2 linked regions of the Homo sapiens genome follow. The protein of the gene in region 1 interacts with the protein of each later gene in a pairwise test. Each region holds a gene or a part of one and is shown on either strand. Other genes may lie near its edges. The genes, in order: ZPBP and CALU.

The links.
Region 2: the proteins of ZPBP (region 1) and CALU interact in a two-hybrid assay, tested with the Homo sapiens proteins (one large-scale study listed by BioGRID and IntAct).

Annotation. Positions count from the first base shown.
Region 1 is NC_000007.14:49,977,978-49,981,827, forward strand, and holds part of ZPBP (zona pellucida-binding protein 1 isoform 1 precursor), read right to left. Parts: intron 1-3,850.
Region 2 is NC_000007.14:128,742,265-128,746,114, reverse strand, and holds part of CALU (calumenin isoform a precursor), read right to left. Parts: intron 1-3,850. UniProt on the Homo sapiens protein: Involved in regulation of vitamin K-dependent carboxylation of multiple N-terminal glutamate residues. Seems to inhibit gamma-carboxylase GGCX. Binds 7 calcium ions with a low affinity.

The sequences.
Region 1 (3,850 bases):
AAAACCACTGCCATAGTTTAAAGAGAAAAAAATAGGAAGGGATCTGGGGTATTATGTCAAAGAATGCTACTTGATCTACAAGTTTGTTTGTTTTTGGTTTTTTGTTTTTTTTTTTTTGAAAAACTAGCAGAAATAACATGGGAGAAAGTTGAATATATAAGCTATACAAAAATATAATAGAAATTGAAAAGTAAAGCATTTCAGAATCTGTGTTTTCACAAACTTCTTTTAAAAACAACGTAATATTAGGCTAGTCTTTGGTTGTAGTATATTATATAATTTATAAAATTATAAGACACTGATAATTCACACATTTAATAAGTCTCTCTTTAAAGTGCCAAAACTGATTAACAAAATGTTGTACATTATAAGGAATGGTAAATGTCAAATCACAGAGAAGCTTTTCAGTATAAATTAATTTAAAAGTACTAAATAAGTTAGGAAAAAGAAAAATAATATAGGTGGAAATGTTAAGTCTTCACTAATTTATAAGGAAACAAGCTTTCTCTTCCAGAAGGAAAAGAACAAATCTGGTGCTTATTTCACCTACTACGGAGAAAGTAAACAAACTTCCCTTATGTCATAAAATGCTTTGTCTCAATCTTGTTTGTTGAATATAAACATGGTATATCATTTTATTCTGGACAGAAGTTGTTTCATGAGATACCTCATATATTTTGTGAGCTCATCATCATTTTATCTAGTAGTCAGTTTCATACTTGAATGGATTTTAAATTCATTTACTATGTTAATTTTGTCTTTTAACTAGTGTTATCCTAATTTAAAATACAGGGTAATTTGTTAAATCATTTTCTATTCAGAGAATTATTTAAGTATCTTTTTGAGTAGTTATATGCTTTTCTAAAACGTTAGGGTGATAACCTCCTGTAAAATAAACAAAAATTATTATTATCCTATGGGGTCCTGAATGTTACATTAAGGGAACTGAATCTTGCTTAATAGCTTACAGGAATGATAACACAAAGATAATTATAAATTAAAATGTTTATTAACCATAAGATGGCACAAAATGAAATTTAGCAACTCACTAATTAATAAGTCTATTGAGCAATGATGATGAGCCCATAAAATCCAAAAAATAAATTTTATTTTATTTAAGCAAAATTCCCCCCCATAAACTTGATGCTCATTCATGCTATTGCTTGGATGGTACTTGCTATCCTGGTATCCTGCAAAGTAACTTCCTCAAGACTCAAACACAAGTCTCACCGAGAAAGCCGTATCACAATTACATTGAACCCTTGTGATCTATCCTATTGCAAACTCAATTTTCTTTATATAATCTTCTTGTATTTTTCCCTTAACAGTCTCTTGTTCCCTAATTGTTTCATGGATGCATCTCCTAAGTATATAAACTCCGTGGGCAGAGATCAAATATTCAGGAGCACAAAACAGTATTTTAGAGACAGAAAATATTTTTGAGATTCATGTTAAATTATCTCATATACTTCTTATGACAAGAATAAAAACAATTACCTTGATCAAATAGTGTAGTACATAATAAGTTGAGTGTAATCATTACATGGTGAAATTAGAAAACATTACAATTGTGTTGTTACCCAAAGTTTTTAAATACAAAAAAAATTTTTAATGATAAAATTATGTGTAATTCTGACATTCAAAACTACTACTTCACTTGAAAGAGCTATGTTTGACAATTTCAAAATACTTATAATTGAGGAGATGCAAATATTTTAACAATTTTAGTTTAAGTCTTCTTTGAATAATGATATAAATACATGTAATAGCTTAACTACTATGTTCCAGTTTATTTTTTGGGTATTTCTATGTTTTTCTTTATCCTTATCTGTGTTCTGGAGTTATACATATATATATATATATATATATAAAATATATATAATATAATATAATATATTATATATTACATATTATGTATATTACATATCTGTGTTCTGGATATATATCATATATTAGATAATATATAAATATATATTAATATATTTATATTATATATTATATATTAATATAATTTTATATTATATATTATATATATTATAATATAATTTTATATTATATTATAATATATATAATATAATTTTATATTATATTATAATATATATAATATAATTTTATATTATATATAATTATAATATAATTTTATATTATAATTATATATTATATTTATATTATAATTATATATTATATTATAATTTAATTAATAAAATTAAATTGTATTATGTTATATGTTATATAATATAAAATTATATAATATAAATATATAATATAAATATATAATACATATAATATAAATATATAATATATATAATATAAATATATAATATATATAATATAAATATATAATATATAACATATATTATATAATACATAATATAAAAATTAATTTTTCAGTCTTAAAAGAGTTTAAAAAATTTATACTAATATCACTAAATTTATACCTGTCTTAGTCTGTTTCATATTGCCATAAGAGGATATTTAAGCCTGGATAGTTTATAAAGGAAAAACGTTTATTTGTCTCACGATTCTGATGGCTGAAAAGTTTGAGACTGGGCATTCGGTGAGGGCCTCGGGCTGCTTCCACCCATGGCAGAAGGTGAAAGGCAGCCTGAGTGTGCAGAACTCAAATGGTGAGAGAGGAAGCCAGAGAGGGGGGCAGGTGCCAGCCTCTTTTGTATAGCCAGCTCTCACAGGAACTAACAGAATTAGAACTCGGTCACCCCGAGGGAGAATATTAATCTATTCATGAGAGATCTGCTCCCACGACCCGAACCTCTCCCACTACGCCTTACATCCCAACATTGCCACACTTGGAACTAAATTTAAACATGAGATTTTGTGGGAACAAACAAACCATAGCCAAATCATAGCAATATCATTCTCATTAAGTCATTTCTAATTGTTCTTTTCTCCTTTCTTTCTGCAATTTAAGTTAGATTAAAAGCCTTTTCATAAAATAGACTACTGACTATTCCTTTTACTTTGTTTTCTTTGATTTGGCTAGAGTTATCTTTATAACTTTTTGTGTTTTGTTATTTAAATATATGAACTTTCACAAAAATATAGTACAAAGTTATATTAGGAAATAGAATACAAATTAAACAAAGAAATAACTGCCAACTGTTAACTTTGTAACTATTTTTAAAATTGTGATTATATATATTTTATATATATAAAATCACTGGTTTTAAATATCAGTGATTATTTCTATCATATAATGTATGTTATATATAATGTAATATATATTTATATACAAATTGTAAATATTTATATATGTTATATATAATATAGATCAGATATAATATATATTATATAATATATATTATATATAATTATATATTATATAATATATATTATAATTATATATATTATATAATATATATTATATATAATTATATATATTATATATAATTATATATATTATATATAAAATATATATAATATATAATATAAAATATATATAATATATATTATGTACATATAATAATATATATAATTATATATAATATATATTATATATAATATAAATTATATATGGTATATTATATAATATATATTATAATTTTATATAATTATATAAATTATATATTATATAATTATATAAATTATATATTATATAATTATATAAATTATATAATTATATTATATTATATTATATTATATATTATATAATATCTTGATATAAAATATATATTATATATTATATATAATAATATATATAATTATATATAATATATTATATATAATATAAATTATATATGGTATATTATATATTATATATTATAATTTTACATAATTATATGAATTATATAGATTATATAATTATATGAATTATATAGATTATATAATTATA
Region 2 (3,850 bases), about 79 Mb from region 1:
CAAGATATGTCAAGTGAACAAAAAAAGCAAGGTTCAAAACAACGTCAAGATCTCATTTACATAAAAAGCAAAACAAAATTAAACAATCTCCCCAGCTTGTTTTTATTTGTATAAAATATAACATGCACATAAATGGTGTGCAAAGACAAATACCCATGTGTAAACAGTGGTAACCTCAAGGTTCATGGGAGAAGAGACAGGAATGGGGTGGGCTGGTAAGATTGGTGTGAAAGTGAACTTTAATACTGTATCCTGCTGTACTGTCTAATTTGTATGAACAGCACACTCTCATGTTTATTAGCTTTCTGTGTGCACCACTTGTAAAATATTGCTCTGGGTGAACAACACTCTGGCTGACCCTCCAATAATTCAACTGATCAATCAAATCAGTTAAAGAGTAAACAGAAAATCCGAGATTTAGCGGCTCTATAAATACAACATTAAAGTGAGTATGCCTTTACTTCAGGGCAAAATGAAACTTCTATCTCAAACTATAAACAATTCTTTTTTTGAGACAGGGTCTTACTCTGTCACCCAGGCTAGATATAGTGGTGTGATGATAGCTCACTGCAGTCTGGTCCTCTGGGGCTCAGACCATCCTCCCACTTCAGCCTCCCAAGTAGCTGGGAATACAAGTGTGTACCACCATGCACAGCAAATTAAAAAAAAAAAAATGTTGTAGAGTCTCACTATGTTGCCCAGACTGGTCTCAAGCGATCCTCCAGCCCTGGCCTCCCAAAGTGCTGGGATTACAGTCGTAAGCCACCATACCCAGCCTATAAACAAATAATTCTTTAGATAAACAAAACTTTGGAAACAAAAAACAGAATTATATGTTGTTGATGTTTTGGGATATATCCCAACAATATGTATAGTGACAGAGGCTTGCAGAATCAAGTAAAATCAAGAGTCACTGCAACAAAGGATTTTCCTTATGCCTAAGGGGACTTTATCTTTAGGAAAATTTTACAAATGATTACATTCTCAAAATAAAATATAGCATAATACCCTAACAATTCTTGCCAACCCCAAATATTACAATATGAATAAATACTTATGCACTCTAACATAATCTGGTCCTGGAAAGGATACTGTACCAAGTTTTGAGACATGTAGCATACAGAAATGTAATAGATTGGTTTACTCTGTGATTTAGAGGGAAAACTACATTTATGTTTCAGGCTTAATATCTTGATACAAGGATACCAGAATTCCAAAGAGTAGAAGCCAAGTGATTTAGCTTTATCACTCACCCATTTCTCCTTCCTTCCCCTCTCCTGAATAAACTTTCAATCTCATCCCTTAAACAGGCTCCTCCATTCTGTCAATCAGTGCTTCTCAGGTCTCCACTACCCACAGTCTTTCCCAGACTGTGCTGTTCCTTCATGCTTGCTCCTCCCTTTCCCTCACCCACAGTTTCTACCCTGCTGCCTCTGCTTCCTCACTGTCCAATGCTACCCTGAAACCTGGCTTCCTTACTATTGATGAAACTGCCTACAACGGTCATCAAGGACCCAGATGGACAAAGCCAATGGTCCATCTTTACTTCTTTATCTTTCTGCAGGGAGGAATGAAAAATCTGCACTTTAAAGAAGTTCTACTTAAAAAAAAACAAAACGTCCTTTGTGCCCACATATATAACAACTCCTGGCTATTAGAAACTTTAACAAAGCCCTCTTGTTTTATGAATATAGACACTAAAAACAAAAAACACCATCCATACCAAAAACTGTACTAGATTTATCTAAAACCATATGGTTTTTGGTATGGAGCATGTATGTTCAAGCAGAAACAAAGGACATCTAAGACAAAGGATATCTTACGTGGGAAGATGTGAAAGGAACAGTAAAAAATAACTTCATACACAGCATTTGAAAATCTACTTTAGTGCACTTCGTTTTCTTTTGTTGAGACTGAGTCTGTCTCTGTTGCCCAGGATGGAGTGCAGTGGTGTGATCTTGGCTCACTGCAACCTCCACCTCCTGGGTTCAAGTGATTCTCCTGCCTCAGCCTCCTCAATAGCTGGGATTACAGGCATGGTCTACCACGCCCGAATAATTTTTGTATTTTTAGTAGATACAGGGTTTCACCATGTTGTCCAGGTTGGTCTCAAACTCCTGACCTCAAGTGATTCTCCCGTCTCGGCCTCCCAAAGTGTCGGGATTACAGGTGTGAGCTACCATGACCAGCCAGTACACTTCATTTCTGAAGCATCTTTGTCTTTTCAACCAAATTGAAACCAAATGATACAAAGTTAATGGCCCTTCTCATTTTCCTCACCCACTTCAACACTTTATAAAAGTTTAGACTGGGCCAGCAGCAGTGGCTCAAGCCTGTAATCCCAGCACTTTGGAGGGCCAAGGCGGATGGAATGCTGGTGTTCAAGACCAGCCTAGGCAATCCCATCTCCACCAAAAATACAAAAAATTAGCTGGGTGTGGTGGCGCAGCTATAGTCCCAGCTACCGGGGAAGCTGAAGTGGGAGGATCGCCTGAGCCCCGGAGACACGAGGTTACAGTGAGTCATGATCATGCCACCACACTCCAGCCTTGGTGAGGGAACAAGACCCTGTCTCAAAAAAAGAAAAAGAAAAAAAAAAGTTTAAATTGGATACTTTTGTCCAAAAAGTAAAAAAAAAGTTTAGAGGAATAGGTACAGATCACTTCCAGCTGGAAAGATCTTTGTGTATCCATTGGGCCATACATACTGATCACAATACTGGTCCAATGGATATACTATGGACATAATGGACAACATAATATTAGGAAAAATATGATACACATAAACAAAAGACTTAGCTGTATGAGCTTTTATCATGTGATCTAGAAAGTAAACCAATGGTTGTGAAAACTGAATTTCCCCACCTCCCATTTCTCAAATGAGTTTCTCTCTCTAAAATTCTGTCCCTCTTCCACGAAGGGTAACATCTAATATTTTTTTCTTGGGAAAAAAAAAAAATCTAGGCCTGTACTGCCCAGTACAGTAGCCACTAGCCACATGTGACTACTAAGCACTTGAAATGTGGCTAGTGTGAATTGCGATTGGTATAAGTGTTACATTTCATATTGAAAGAATGGTATTTTATATGTATTAGATTAAACATTATTAAAATTACTTTCACCTGTTTTAGATTTTCACCTGAAAATTTAAAATTACATATGTGGCTTGTATTATATTTTTATTGGACAGCATGTTAGACACAAACCAAAAGATTAGAACAGAAAATATATCCAGTAGCTATCATCCTTTTGTAGTATTAGTATGTCACCAATAATGGTCTTCTATAAAGTTGTTTTCATGAATCGTTCCAGTAATTTATAAAGAGAAAAGCCTAACTGGGTTAAGTGTGATTTTAATAATAATGAGTCTTAAGAATTGGTTTCTTCGATCCATCCAAAAATGTCCTTAAAAGCTCTAAATTCTTATCACTTCTCCCTACCCCACCCTTCAGGTAAGAACTTAGAGCTTTCAAGGAAGTTTTTGTCCTTAGTGTCCATAGTGTATCCATTGGACCAGTATTGCGAGCAATACATGGCCCAAACTTTCAATTTTGGTAAAGTGCCATTGGTCACAGAATACTTAAATTGTTTCAGGGAAATTTAGATGTTTAAATTCAACTTCACAAGAACGTTAACACTGAGTGATCCAACAGTTATTATGGTTGACCAAAGACCCATTGCTCAATGTTAACAATTGGGAGAAATGGGTGTGGTAGTAAAATTCCAGTTCTCTGAGCTGGATGGATATTCACCAGAAAAGGCATTTATTTCTCCATAACGCAGCAAAAGCAGGATCTCATTGTTTAACTGTCTACTTCAATTGGAGATTACAGGGAACAGACTGATAGCAA